3 linked regions of the Homo sapiens genome follow. The protein of the gene in region 1 purifies or fractionates together with the protein of each later gene. This does not show direct contact. Each region holds a gene or a part of one and is shown in the gene's direction. Other genes may lie near its edges.

The links. The genes of interacting proteins can lie anywhere in the genome.
Region 2: the proteins of SLITRK3 (region 1) and KCNT2 purify together in Homo sapiens (affinity purification with mass spectrometry; one large-scale study listed by BioGRID and IntAct). This does not show direct contact.
Region 3: the proteins of SLITRK3 (region 1) and RHBDF2 purify together in Homo sapiens (affinity purification with mass spectrometry; one large-scale study listed by BioGRID and IntAct). This does not show direct contact.

What each region holds. Positions count from the first base shown.
Region 1 is NC_000003.12:165,186,385-165,192,070, reverse strand, and holds the end of SLITRK3 (SLIT and NTRK-like protein 3 precursor), read left to right. Parts: intron 1-1,219; 5' UTR 1,220-1,240; coding exon 1,241-4,174; 3' UTR 4,175-5,351; downstream 5,352-5,686. UniProt on the Homo sapiens protein: Suppresses neurite outgrowth.
Region 2 is NC_000001.11:196,339,441-196,344,032, reverse strand, and holds part of KCNT2 (potassium channel subfamily T member 2), read left to right. Parts: intron 1-927; exon of another isoform or gene 928-977; intron 978-1,804; coding exon 1,805-1,954; intron 1,955-3,462; coding exon 3,463-3,692; intron 3,693-4,592. UniProt on the Homo sapiens protein: Sodium-activated and chloride-activated potassium channel. Produces rapidly activating outward rectifier K(+) currents. Contributes to regulate neuronal excitability.
Region 3 is NC_000017.11:76,473,924-76,478,515, reverse strand, and holds part of RHBDF2 (inactive rhomboid protein 2), read left to right. Parts: intron 1-730; coding exon 731-859; intron 860-1,217; coding exon 1,218-1,336; intron 1,337-1,491; coding exon 1,492-1,686; intron 1,687-3,374; coding exon 3,375-3,486; intron 3,487-3,711; coding exon 3,712-3,786; coding exon of another isoform or gene 3,787-3,856; intron 3,857-3,981; coding exon 3,982-4,143; intron 4,144-4,373; coding exon 4,374-4,483; intron 4,484-4,592. UniProt on the Homo sapiens protein: Regulates ADAM17 protease, a sheddase of the epidermal growth factor (EGF) receptor ligands and TNF, thereby plays a role in sleep, cell survival, proliferation, migration and inflammation. Does not exhibit any protease activity on its own.

The sequences.
Region 1 (5,686 bases):
TTAAATTTTGATTGATATTTTAGTGACTCAGGAAGGACAGTGTAATAAAACTGCATTATTATCATTTATGTAAACATTTTCATATACTGATGTTATTAGGCAAGGAAAACGATGCATAGAGAAAGACTGTTATCAGAATAGTGCACTGCATTTGTTTCTTCTGATTGGAAAAGAATGATATCTTTTTTGAAATTTATTTCGTGTGATAGATCATTTATCAGCAGGTAAGAATAGAGGTTTCCACTCTCTCTTGACTTTAACTACCCACCTCCCCTCTAACCAGCCACCTGCTCTTCCAGCTTTTTACAGGGTTCCTCAGTTGATCTTGAAGGCGCAGATACACATTCCAAACTAAGTTTTGCAAATGTTTTAATTCAGACACTTTCAGACTCAGCATCCTCTAGCTGTCCCTATCTTTAGCTCTGACAATTGCACGGGCATGTTTTTTAGAAGGGCTAATCACTCCTACATGTTTTAAATAGTCAAATGATACAAATATATACAAATTATTTATTAAATTAAAGAAGATGACAATAATGTATTATTGGGCAAGAAGATGTGGACATATAGTGTACATACTGACTATACACTGTAATAAAGCATGTTATGATCATTTCATAAAAATAAATCTTAAGTTTTCCTGAGATGCTGATCATTTTACACATCTCAACATCTGATATTGAGCAATAGGCTCATACTTTATCACACTAATCAATATAATAATTTTGGAGTATATCATGTCTTTTTAATCATCAAAACCTATAACTCAAAGAACATATTTTTCCCATCAGAGTTCCAATCAGATTTATTATGAGTATCTTTGATGTCAACATGAGTTTTAACAGGCAAACAGGTGTGATGGCCACATTATTGCCATTATTACTGAATCTGCCTATGCCTAAAAGGAAGTACGATATACCAGTTCTGTTGTTTGTTATACAGAGGCAATGCAGGCTGCTTTTGTTCATGCAATATGCCGTTTACCAAGTATGGCTTGGTTCAGGAAAATGTCACTGCATGGTTCAATATTTCAGAGTCTCCTAAGTTTAAAATATAGGACACACTCTAAACATTAAGTATGTTGCTAGCTCATCTTGAGTGTCACTTCAACAATTGCTGAAGTTTTTATATAGCTCTTAAAATGCCCCACATGTAGGAGTCAATTAAAATAGTACATATGACTAAAAGCTAAAAATCTGCATTTTTATTTCTGTTGCAGTTTTGTAATCAACCACGAACGATGAAACCTTCCATAGCTGAGATGCTTCACAGAGGAAGGATGTTGTGGATAATTCTTCTAAGCACAATTGCTCTAGGATGGACTACCCCGATTCCCCTAATAGAGGACTCAGAGGAAATAGATGAGCCCTGTTTTGATCCATGCTACTGTGAAGTTAAAGAAAGCCTCTTTCATATACATTGTGACAGTAAAGGATTTACAAATATTAGTCAGATTACCGAGTTCTGGTCAAGACCTTTTAAACTGTATCTGCAGAGGAATTCTATGAGGAAATTATATACCAACAGTTTTCTTCATTTGAATAATGCTGTGTCTATTAATCTTGGGAACAATGCATTGCAGGACATTCAGACTGGAGCTTTCAATGGTCTTAAGATTTTAAAGAGACTATATCTACATGAAAACAAACTAGATGTCTTCAGAAATGACACCTTCCTTGGCTTGGAAAGTCTAGAATATCTGCAGGCAGATTACAATGTCATTAAACGTATTGAGAGTGGGGCATTTCGGAACCTAAGTAAATTGAGGGTTCTGATTTTAAATGATAATCTCATCCCCATGCTTCCAACCAATTTATTTAAGGCTGTCTCTTTAACCCATTTGGACCTACGTGGAAATAGGTTAAAGGTTCTTTTTTACCGAGGAATGCTAGATCACATTGGCAGAAGCCTGATGGAGCTCCAGCTGGAAGAAAACCCTTGGAACTGTACATGTGAAATTGTACAACTGAAGAGTTGGCTGGAACGCATTCCTTATACTGCCCTGGTGGGAGACATTACCTGTGAGACCCCTTTCCACTTCCATGGAAAGGACCTACGAGAAATCAGGAAGACAGAACTCTGTCCCTTGTTGTCTGACTCTGAGGTAGAGGCTAGTTTGGGAATTCCACATTCGTCATCAAGTAAGGAGAATGCATGGCCAACTAAGCCTTCCTCAATGCTATCCTCTGTTCATTTTACTGCTTCTTCTGTCGAATACAAGTCCTCAAATAAACAGCCTAAGCCCACCAAACAGCCTCGAACACCAAGGCCACCCTCCACCTCCCAAGCTTTATATCCTGGTCCAAACCAGCCTCCCATTGCTCCTTATCAGACCAGACCACCAATCCCCATTATATGCCCCACTGGGTGTACCTGTAATTTGCACATCAATGACCTTGGCTTGACTGTCAACTGCAAAGAGCGAGGATTTAATAACATTTCTGAACTTCTTCCAAGGCCCTTGAATGCCAAGAAACTGTATCTGAGTAGCAATCTGATTCAGAAAATATACCGTTCTGATTTTTGGAATTTTTCTTCCTTGGATCTCTTGCATCTGGGGAACAATCGTATTTCCTATGTCCAAGATGGGGCCTTTATCAACTTGCCCAACTTAAAGAGCCTCTTCCTTAATGGCAACGATATAGAGAAGCTGACACCAGGCATGTTCCGAGGCCTACAGAGTTTGCACTACTTGTACTTTGAGTTCAATGTCATCCGGGAAATCCAGCCTGCAGCCTTCAGCCTCATGCCCAACTTGAAGCTGCTATTCCTCAATAATAACTTACTGAGGACTCTGCCAACAGACGCCTTTGCTGGCACATCCCTGGCCCGGCTCAACCTGAGGAAGAACTACTTCCTCTATCTTCCCGTGGCTGGTGTCCTGGAACACTTGAATGCCATTGTCCAGATAGACCTCAATGAGAATCCTTGGGACTGCACCTGTGACCTGGTCCCCTTTAAACAGTGGATCGAAACCATCAGCTCAGTCAGTGTGGTTGGTGATGTGCTTTGCAGGAGCCCTGAGAACCTCACGCACCGTGATGTGCGCACTATTGAGCTGGAAGTTCTTTGCCCAGAGATGCTGCACGTTGCACCAGCTGGAGAATCCCCAGCCCAGCCTGGAGATTCTCACCTTATTGGGGCACCAACCAGTGCATCACCTTATGAGTTTTCTCCTCCTGGGGGCCCTGTGCCACTTTCTGTGTTAATTCTCAGCCTGCTGGTTCTGTTTTTCTCAGCAGTCTTTGTTGCTGCAGGCCTCTTTGCCTACGTGCTCCGAAGGCGTCGAAAGAAGCTGCCCTTCAGAAGCAAGCGGCAGGAAGGTGTGGACCTTACTGGCATCCAAATGCAATGCCACAGGCTGTTTGAGGATGGTGGAGGTGGTGGTGGCGGAAGTGGGGGTGGTGGTCGACCAACTCTTTCCTCTCCAGAGAAGGCCCCTCCCGTGGGTCATGTGTATGAGTACATCCCCCACCCGGTTACCCAAATGTGCAACAACCCCATCTACAAGCCTCGTGAGGAGGAGGAGGTGGCTGTTTCATCAGCCCAAGAAGCAGGGAGTGCAGAACGTGGGGGTCCAGGGACACAACCACCGGGAATGGGTGAGGCTCTCCTAGGAAGTGAGCAGTTTGCTGAGACACCCAAGGAGAACCATAGTAACTACCGGACCTTGCTGGAAAAAGAGAAGGAGTGGGCCCTAGCAGTGTCCAGCTCCCAGCTTAACACCATAGTGACGGTGAATCACCATCACCCTCACCACCCAGCAGTTGGTGGGGTTTCAGGAGTAGTTGGGGGAACTGGGGGAGACTTGGCAGGGTTCCGCCACCATGAGAAAAATGGTGGGGTGGTGCTGTTTCCTCCTGGGGGAGGCTGTGGTAGTGGCAGTATGCTACTAGATCGAGAGAGGCCACAGCCTGCCCCCTGCACAGTGGGATTTGTGGACTGTCTCTATGGAACAGTGCCCAAATTAAAGGAACTGCACGTGCACCCTCCTGGCATGCAATACCCAGACTTACAGCAGGATGCCAGGCTCAAAGAAACCCTTCTCTTCTCGGCTGGAAAGGGCTTCACAGACCACCAAACCCAAAAAAGTGATTACCTCGAGTTAAGGGCCAAACTTCAAACCAAGCCGGATTACCTCGAAGTCCTGGAGAAGACAACATACAGGTTCTAACAGAGAGAAGAAAATATATTAGTGCTTTTTTTTTTTCAAAAGAAAAGGAAAATAAAAGAAATATATCCCTTGCTCCCTTTACACTTGTCCCAGTAACTCCATCCTCACGATCTTTCCTACCCTGAACAAAACTAAAACCGCATGATAACTAGAGAATACAGATGTATGCTCTCCCCTCTCAGATGCGATTTGGAGGAAGGGCCATACTCAGATCATTAATCAATGAAAGTGCCTTCGCAGACTTTTGCCAGCAAATGTTATCATTATTTTTTTATACTGAAACTTGAGACTTTGACTGTGCCATGTATAAGATATACTGGGGATCATTGTATGGATCCTAATTAAGTAAAATTCAATGTGTCTTTTTATTTTCAGTAACTATTTTTTTTATAGTTGTAGTTTTGATTTAAAGGGGGGGAAACAAGTTGACATTTGTCATTTGTGGCTTTCTTTCTTATCATCATGGCACAGATTCTGTACATGTATTAACAATGCAGTTTGCTGCATGCCTGGAAACTGCAAGATGGGGAGGGAGGGGGCGGGTCTTGCTCGAATGTTCTCACTCACTATCTTGTCTCTCATACACATATCCATCTGCAGACCATGGTCCCTAAACCTGCAGTTTCTTCCTGCTGGTGCAGGTACACACACACACACACACACACACACACACACACACACACACTCCATACCATTTCCATTCAACTCAATCTGCTTAGTTCGGGTTTGATCCATTTTTCTCCTCTCCATAGTTCTACCACCCTTCACTGCTAGTGTACAGCTCACAGCATCTCTCCTACCACCCTGGGAAAAGTCACATTCTAGGCTGGATTCTACTGAAGTAGAGGCCTGGTGGTTTAACAGCCGAAGACACACGCCTAGGGATGAGCACCCTCTTTGTGACACTTCATCCTGATGCCAAGATTTTTTGGAGAACATCTGCACTTTCTTATATATATATATAATATTAAAAAAAGCAACTGGGTATATATCACTAACAGCTTTGTAGGAAGCACTTTTAATGTTTTCTCTCTCACACACAAAGATTCAAAAGAAATGTGCATATATTTATTCTGTAATTTCAGTGATTATAAATTGTAAAGGTAATGTTTAATCATTGTATAGTGATTATGCCTCTGGTATAGCTTTCCTAATAAAAAGTTTTTGAAAAACATAATACATTATATATAGAGGATACAAAGCTTGAACCTTAAACTCCAGCTATGCCATGCCTTTCGTGCTTCCATTTTAGAAATGATTTCTTTTACTTGTTACACAGAAAGTAATTTATTAACGGGTTTGATGCACTGTGATGTTGATAAATCTTATATCCCACCATCTCTAGTCCAAACCAGGATACAATTGAGACTTAAAATGTGACTTACGGTTTACTTTTTTTTCCTTGAATTATGAATTTCAGTCTTAGTAACCAGTGATGCACTGTTTCCCAGGCAAGATGCAAGGGGGAGAAAATAAAGTAACTAGATCGCTAAGAAGTACAGGATTAATTAG
Region 2 (4,592 bases), on another chromosome or scaffold:
CAAGGCGGGCGGATCGCCTGAGGTTGGGAGTTCAAGACCAGTCTGTCCAGCATGGTGAAACCCCATCTCTACTAAAAATACAAAAATTAGCTGGGCATGGTGGCAGGTGCCTGTAATCCCAGCTACTCGGGAAGGTTAGACAGGAGAATCGCTTGAACCCAGGAGGCAGAGGTTGCAGTGAGCTGAGATCGTGCCATTGCTGTCCAGCCTGGGCGACAAAGCAAGACTCCTTCTAAAAACACACAAATAAATAAAAATAAAAACAAAACAAAACAAAACAAAACACGATTATAGAGTTGGGACTCAGATTAGACAATCAAACTCCAGGGCCCAGGCTCTTAACTCTTTAAGCATACTTAAGAAGGAATGAGGCAGCAATGAGGCATACTTAGAAAATATAGATATTTTTTAAAGCTTATTGACAATTTGAAAATATTGACAAATGTTACCTTCCTAATAACCCTTTAGACAATACTCAGTTTAAAATGGCCTTTAAAGTCCTAAACATGGTTGTAATGTCTTGTGATCTGTTTTGATCCATTAAGAATTGATTAGAGATTATGATAAATTATTTTGATTTTTATATATTTATCATATTGCTTCTAAAATGTGCTTTTTTGTAGAGTTCATAAGTGTTATTCAGCAAAGGTAAATGAATTTATTATATAAAATGAGAAATAACCTATTTATATATCCATTATGAATTTCTCATAAATTGAATTTTTAATATATTTCTAAAGCCACTGAGTTAGGCGGGCAGCGCAGAACGTTCCAGAACAAAAGACATTGTACTTTTTGTGGTAAAATTATCTTCTTTATAAAAATACTTTTGTGGGATGTCTTTTGGAGATTTAGTCAGTTCAGGCTGTTATTACAAATTACCACAGCTTGGGCATTTTATAAACAACAGAAATTCATTTCTTACAGTTCTGAAGGCTGGAAATCCAAGATCTAGGTGCCAACATGATCCAGTGCTGGTGAGGGCCCCCTTCTGAGTTTTAAACTGCTGACTTGTATTTTCACATGGCGGGAAGATAGCTCTTTAGCATCTTTTTAAAAGGCACTAATTCCATTCCTGAGGGCTCCACTCTCATAACCTAATTGCCTCTCAAAGGCCACACTCCCAAATACCATCATAATGGGATTAGGATTCCAACATGAATTTTGTGGTTACAAGAATATTCAGTTAGTTGGAGAGATCCTTACATTTAAAATAAGAAAAGTGTCTTTTCGTGACTGCTATACAATTGGAAGAAAGTTATTGCTACGATATGAACAAAAACTAAAGGTATATTTTCTATAAAATCAAAGATAAATTGAGATAAATTTGTAATTTTAAGTATAAAGCAAAATAAAATACCTACAGCAGCCACGCAGGTATCATAGGTAAGATAACGTTGGCCATATTATGGAGACTGTACAACAAATTTTAGAAGATATACATGATAGGATATGTATATAAAGAGAGACTAAAATCCTGTATCTCATTGATTCATTGTGAGAGTAAAGCTTTTCATTAGCTGGATCTTGGAAAACTCCCACTTTCTACAAAACTGTCATTTCTCAAGCATATATATATATATACATATATATATATATATATATATATATAGTATTCAAAATTTTTTAGAAACTCTTGCATATAATGTCATCTTCAGACTTCAAAGCATTACTCAGATGCTCCTTTGGATTGTGCTTGCCAGTTCTTACACAGTTGAGAAACAGTTCTATAACAACTGTTTTTTAACCACATTCACTGTGTTTTCTTTTTGTGTGTGTGTATGTGTGTGTGCCTGTGTTGCAGAGAAGGCCAGCAATCGCCAGAACAATGGCAGAAGATGTACGGTAGATGCTCCGGGAATGAAGTCTACCACATTGTTTTGGAAGAAAGTACATTTTTTGCTGAATATGAAGGAAAGAGTTTTACATATGCCTCTTTCCATGCACACAAAAAGTATGTTTCTGCCTCAGAGAAAAATTAAAATATCAATCAGTCAAGCATATCATGTGAAAATAGTTTTCAAAAATAGAATGCATATTGTGTTCATGTGTTTAGGCATTCCGGAATTTTTGTCACAATATTCCCCAATGTTGAAACATTTGAACCCTGGTGTCTGTATGGTCTCTATAAGACAGTCAGGAGTAAATTATAATTTAGTAGGAATATTTCATTTAGCCACTTTTAAAGTCTTTTTAAAATATTTTAATCCATTAAGAATTTACATACATATGAAAATCTTCTTCACAGATCTGAATTTTAAGATGTTGATTAGGAACTAAAACAAAGTAACACTAATATTTCTAAAAACTGTACATTTGAAAAAAAAATCTCTGATGGTGGCCCTTGTTTTGGCCTGAGAAATAAGTTAAAAAATAAATAAAACTACCTTCCAATTCAAACATAGAACTTTTTTTTTCTTTTCCTTTTTGGAAAAAAAAAGGATTTACTTAAGAAGTAAAAATGTATGTATATAATGAAAATAACATATTATCTGTATTAAATGTTTTAATGTGACACATTTTGGAGGATTTACAATATACGTATATAGTCTACTAACTAATCTATTATGTAATGTACAGGAACCCCCAACTTATGATGCTTTGACTTACTATTTTTTTACCATGATGGTACAAAACAATAGCCATTCAGTAGAAACCATACTTCCAGTATCCATACAATCATTTTATTTTTCACTTTCAGTAGAATATTCAATAAATTACATAAGATATTTAACACTTTATTATAAAACAGGCTTGGTATTAGATGATTTTGCCCAACTGTAGGCAATGTAAGTGTTATGAGTATGTTTAAGGTTGGCTAGGTTAAAACTATGATATTTGTTAGGCTAGCTGTATTAAAAGCATTTTTTATTTAACAATATTTTCAACTTATGCTGGGTTTATCAGGACATAACTCTATTATAAGTCAAGGAGCTTCTGTATTCTACTTTACTTTTTTTTTCTGACTAAGTACATACCTATTTAAGACTATTTAAATATATATATTTTTTCTAAAATTTAAAGTAAACCAACTGTGATAAATTCAGGGACCCTGGTTCTCTTTCAGGTGACCATGGGTAAGTTTCTTTCCTTTGGCCAATAGTTTTAAGCTTTTTATTTATTTTTTTTAACCAAAGTAAGATATGCTGTTTATGTTTTTTGACCAAAGTAAAATTGTTGTAAAAATTCGCAAAATAATGTTACCCTTAGTGTATACATGCACTCATGTTTCTTATGTTCTTCCATTCATTTTCATTAAAATGTAAATTTATAGTGGTCATAATCAGCTAAATTGGTTTTACAACACACTAAGCACATAGTTTATTTTCCTGTAAAAATGAGGATCTTGAACTTCTAGGATCATTTCAAGCTTTAAAATGCTATTATTTAAAGCTTTTATTTTCCTCAGCCTTACAATAATTTACTAATTTTCTTACAAACTCTCTTTTTTTTTAAATTAAGGTTTGGCGTCTGCTTGATTGGTGTTAGGAGGGAGGATAATAAAAACATTTTGCTGAATCCAGGTCCTCGATACATTATGAATTCTACAGACATATGCTTTTATATTAATATTACCAAAGAAGAGAATTCAGCATTTAAAAACCAAGACCAGCAGAGAAAAAGCAATGTGTCCAGGTCGTTTTATCATGGACCTTCCAGATTACCTGTACATAGCATAATTGCCAGCATGGGTAAGTATAAACAAATTTGAAATATCATTAATTTATTTCTAAAATAAAAAATAATGATAAATACCAATGCATTTAAATTTTTATTAAAAGTTTAAAGAAAATTTCAAACATGCTGCATTTTACAAACTAGGTATGACTAGGTATACAGGACAACAGTTCTAAGTTGTGAATTTTTTAAAAAGTAAGATATTAGCCTACTGTGGTGGCATATGTCTATAATACTACCTATTCCAGAGGCTGAGGTGGAAGAATTGCTTGAGCCAGGAGTTTGAGAACAGCCTGGGCAACAGAAAAAGACTCTGTGTCCAAAAAAACCTCAATCTAAGATATTACAAAAACACAATCAACAATCATTTTATATTTCTCATTATATATAAAGCACCACACACTTTTATATTTCTTTTGTAAGTTCTCTTTGTAATTATCATCAAGAGAGGCTATTTCAAATATTCTTCATTTTCTCAAAATTCTCTTTCCATCTCTTACCTCACTCTCACCACTGAACTTGGCTTCTATGACACAGAAGAAGAAAGGTAAAAGAAAAAATACCTCCATGCAAATAAGAATTTCTTTACGGTTTGGCCTCCAAACCATCTACAAACCTACAAACATTTAGTATCTGTCACAAGGAAAATGTGTCATTTTTAACTAATACTGATACATTCATTTATTCCAGGAACCATGCCCTTGTTCCTCCTCAGAGACTTTACTCTTTAATCCCTCCTCATTACCTAACTTCATTTTCTATTCAGAATCACTGGCTGATCTCTCTCTCTCTGTGTCTCTGTCTCTCTCTCTCTCTCTCTCTCTCTCTCTCTCTGTGTGTGTGTGTGTCTCTTCATATCTCTGTGTGCACCATACACTTGTAATTTTGAACCTTCCATGATAACAACTTCAGAG
Region 3 (4,592 bases), on another chromosome or scaffold:
TCATCCACCCGGGTTTTCCAAGTCCCTGTTACGTGCTGGGCACCGCGTGCAGAGCCATCGCCATCCTGGCTGAGCTCGCAGCCCAGGGTGAGGGTCACCATTCAGGGTGGTCAGTTTAGGAGAGCGGCTGTTATCAGGGAAGACATTGAGTTAAGCCCAGAAGACACAAGGAGACGTTCACTAGGGAAGGAAGGGAACAGCATTCTCAGCAGAGGGAATGGCCTATGCAAGGGCCAGGAGCCCAGAGGAAGTACAGTGCTTTGAGGGGGCAGCAGGCGGTTTGATGTGGTTTTAGTGAAGGGTGGTTATAGGAGCTGTGGCAGGAGATGGGGTCAGAAAGGTGGGCAGGGACCTGGTATTCCGTGCCAAGAAACAGGGACAGGGAGACATGGCCCAAGCCTCGGGAGTGAGGGTATAGAATGTGGGTTGCTTTGAGTGTTAGGGTACCAGCAGCCCAAGGCAGAGGGGCAGCAGGGACCAAGGGAAAGGTGACTCCAAACTGTGCCAAGAGTGGTGTGCCAACGGAAGCTGGTGTCTCATTTCCTGGCCTTCCAGTCTCAGGAGCTCCTCTTGCCCGTTCAGCTTGCAGAATCTCCACGCTTTGGGCAGGATCCCTCCTCCCAAGGCGCTGCCTGCAGGCGGATGGGCTTGATGATTCCTTCGGTGTTGGGGCTGGGGGCCTAGGTGGCCAGGCTGTGGTCCTGATGGCTGTGCCTCTGCCCGTGCACAGGGGCGCTCGGTGCTGGATGCCACCGGACAGCGGTGCCGGGTGGTCAAGCGCAGCTTTGCCTTCCCGAGCTTCCTGGAGGAGGATGTGGTCGATGGGGCAGACACGTTTGACTCCTCCTTTTTTAGTAAGGCAAGCATGGGGTGTGGGACAGCAGGAGTTGGGTGGGGTGGCCTGGGAGCTGGGTGAGGTGACCTTGGCATTGATCATATTCAGGAACCCCTGAGGGACCCAGAGGCCCACTGCTGGGATGTGGCATGGTCCTATGTGGAGCTGCTGGGCCCCCATCTTTCTGTTGGGTAGGGTGAAGACCTGCGGTGGGGCACAGTGCCACCCGGGAAAGTCACCATTGGGGCTGACGGGCATGTGGCTTCCCAATTCATTGTGAAGAGCCCGTCTGTTCAGCTGTGTCCTGCCCTTGAATTGAGGTTCCGGGGGGCAGTGTTTGGGACAGACTCCTTACACTGTATTTTCTTGTCCCCCACCCCAGGAAGAAATGAGCTCCATGCCTGATGATGTCTTTGAGTCCCCCCCACTCTCTGCCAGCTACTTCCGAGGGATCCCACACTCAGCCTCCCCTGTCTCCCCCGATGGGGTGCAAATCCCTCTGTGAGTGCTGGGGCAGAGTCCCTCCTCCAGGCCAGCCACCAGCCTGGGGGCATCCCCAGACCTCACCCTGGCCCCCAAGCCCCTTCTGAGCACCCTGGTGGGGTCTGGGAGTATTTTGGTGGGGGATTCAGGCTGAAAGCCACCATCCCCACCAGGAAGGAGTATGGCCGAGCCCCAGTCCCCGGGCCCCGGCGCGGCAAGCGCATCGCCTCCAAGGTGAAGCACTTTGCCTTTGATCGGAAGAAGCGGCACTACGGCCTCGGCGTGGTGGGCAACTGGCTGAACCGCAGCTACCGCCGCAGCATCAGCAGCACTGTGCAGCGGCAGCTGGAGAGCTTCGACAGCCACCGGTGAGGTGTCGCCCTGGAGCCCCCAGGAGAGCCTGGAAGGTTCCAAATTCCTCTGGGCCCTCCTGAAGCGCCCCCTTACTCATTCAGCAAGTGTTTCATGAGCATCTTCTGCGGATCAGGAGTGTAGTGACAAGCTCGAAGGCGCACCCTGTCCCAAGGGTTGTGCACATGACCTGGGAAGGGCCAGGGGTGCTTGCTGCCTCTCTTCCACCCCATGCTTTCTGAGCCTGGTCCCCAGCCTTGCTCCCAGACAGCAGTCAGTCAACAAATGTTCATTGAGTGTCACTGCCTGCAGGCCCTAAAATGGAACCCCCAGAGGGTGGAGCAGGGAGGGCAGGGTCGGTCAGAGGACAGTTAGAAGCTGGGGCCAGGGCTGGGCGCCGTGGCTCACACTTGTAATTATAGCACTTTGGGAGGCTGAGTCAGAAGGATTGCTTGAGCCTAGGAGTTTGAGACCAGCCTGGGCAACATAGTGAGACCCTACCTCTACTTTAAAAGAAGAAGCTGGGGCTGGGAGGGAGGGGACTCTGGGAGAGGCTATGCAGAGCCCTTGGGGAAGAACAGGGCATCTGATTTGCAGCAGCCCAATAAACACTGGGCCCAAATTAGAAAATAACAAGCAGGCAGGGCGCGGTGGCTCACGCCTGTAATTCCAGCACTTTCTGAGGCCGAGGCAGGCGGATCACCTGAGGTCAGGAGTTCAAGACCAGCCTGGCCAACATGGTGAAACCCCATCTCTACTAAAAATACAAAAAATTAGCCGGGCGTGGTGGTGCATGCCTGTAATCCCAGCTACTCGGGAGGCTTGAGGCAGGAGAATCACTTGAACCTGGGAGGCAGAGGTTGCAGTGAGCCAGGATCGCACCATTGTACTCCAGCCTGGGCAACAAGAGCGAAATTCCATCTCAAAAAAAAAAGAAAGAAAAGAAAAAGAAAATAACAAGCAATGGCCAGGCCCGGTGGCTCACACCTGTAATCCCAGCACTTCGGGAGGCCTAGGTGGGCAGATCACCTGAGGTCAGGAGTTCGAGACCAGCCTGGCCAACACAGTGAAAACTGGTCTCTACTAAAAAGACAAACAAAATTAGGCAGGTATGGTGGGTGCTTGTAATCCCAGCTACGAGGGAGGCTGAGGCAGGAGAATCGCTTGAACCTGGGGGCGAAGGTTGCAGTGAGCTGAGATCGCACAACTGCATTCCAGCCTAGGTGACAGAGCGAGACTCTGTCTCAAAAAAAAAAAAAGAAAAGAAAAGAACAAGCAATGATAGGTGTGGTGGGTGTCCCGGAGGAGGATAGAGAGGGAGAGTGAACAGCTGGTGGGGAGGGGTGCAGTCAGGACAAACTGTGATGTCATGTGCAAAGGCCCTGGGGCTGGAAGGGCAAAGTACATCCCAGGAAATGCAGGCAAAGAGGCCAGAGAGGTGGTCGGTCAGGCAAAGCTTTGCAGCCAGCAAGAGGGGGTGATTCTGGAATTTGTCCCAAGGCCAGTGGAAAGCTATCAAAAGGTTTTAAGCTAGGAGAGAGATGCTTGGAGGCTCGTCTTAAAAGTTCCTCTGGTTTGAGATGAGTTGACGGGGCAGAACAGGGAGCCCAGGCGAGCCATGTGACCAGGCCAGGGTGGCCCTGTGGCCGGGACTGGGGGTTGGGATAGGAGCTCGGCTCAGCTGACCCGAGGTGTCTCTGCACAGGCCCTACTTCACCTACTGGCTGACCTTCGTCCATGTCATCATCACGCTGCTGGTGATTTGCACGTATGGCATCGCACCCGTGGGCTTTGCCCAGCACGTCACCACCCAGCTGGTGAGTCGGGTCAGGCTCCATGCTGGGGGTCCCAGCCTCTCCTAGGAGGCCTCAGTGTCGTGGGTACCTAATCCCTCCCACCGCAACAATCTGGCCCCAGCAGGGTGGTGCTCACCATAGCCTGGCCCCTTCCTGGAGGCTCTATCCTGGGGACAGCTGCCCCAGCTCCCCATGCCCAGGGCCCACACTGTTCTGACGCCCTCCTCTGTGCTACCTCCACGATAGGTGCTGCGGAACAAAGGTGTGTACGAGAGCGTGAAGTACATCCAGCAGGAGAACTTCTGGGTTGGCCCCAGCTCGGTGAGGGCCCAGGCTGGGGGACATCATCTGAGCCAGGAGTCCCTGTGCCCTGTCACTCCCAGCTGGGCAGGTGGGCTCCTCACCCACCCGCAGGCCCCTCATCAGGGGAGACTCTGCGGGGCAGAGGTGGAGTGATGGACCCCTCCCAGGTCTGGGGCTCAAACTCACTCTCTCCCCTCCCTTTCCCTTCCCCAGATTGACCTGATCCACCTGGGGGCCAAGTTCTCACCCTGCATCCGGAAGGACGGGCAGATCGAGCAGCTGGTGCTGCGCGAGCGAGACCTGGAGCGGGACTCAGGCTGCTGTGTCCAGAATGACCACTCCGGATGCATCCAGACCCAGCGGAAGGACTGCTCGGTGGGGGCAGGCCCTCCCTCCTACCCCTGCCAGACCCTGGTCCCGGACTAGCTCCACTTGCCCTGTCCTTCAAGGGCAGTGACCACGTTCCCTCCTCCCCGCCCCACCTTTCCCAGACCCCCATAGATGAGACTGAGCCCTGGGGAGATGGGAAAAGCCTCTGTCCTTGCCCACTCCAGTGGGGGTGACCTGGCCCCGACATGACCCACCAGCCTTCTTCTGCCCTCCAGGAGACTTTGGCCACTTTTGTCAAGTGGCAGGATGACACTGGGCCCCCCATGGACAAGTCTGATCTGGGCCAGAAGCGGACTTCGGGGGCTGTCTGCCACCAGGACCCCAGGTAGGGCCTGGAGCCTCTGCTGGGCCTCAGGGTCAGGCATAGCCATGCCATCTGAGCCACCCACAGGGACGTGGGTAGGTGGACGTGGCACGCTGGGTGTGCCACAGCC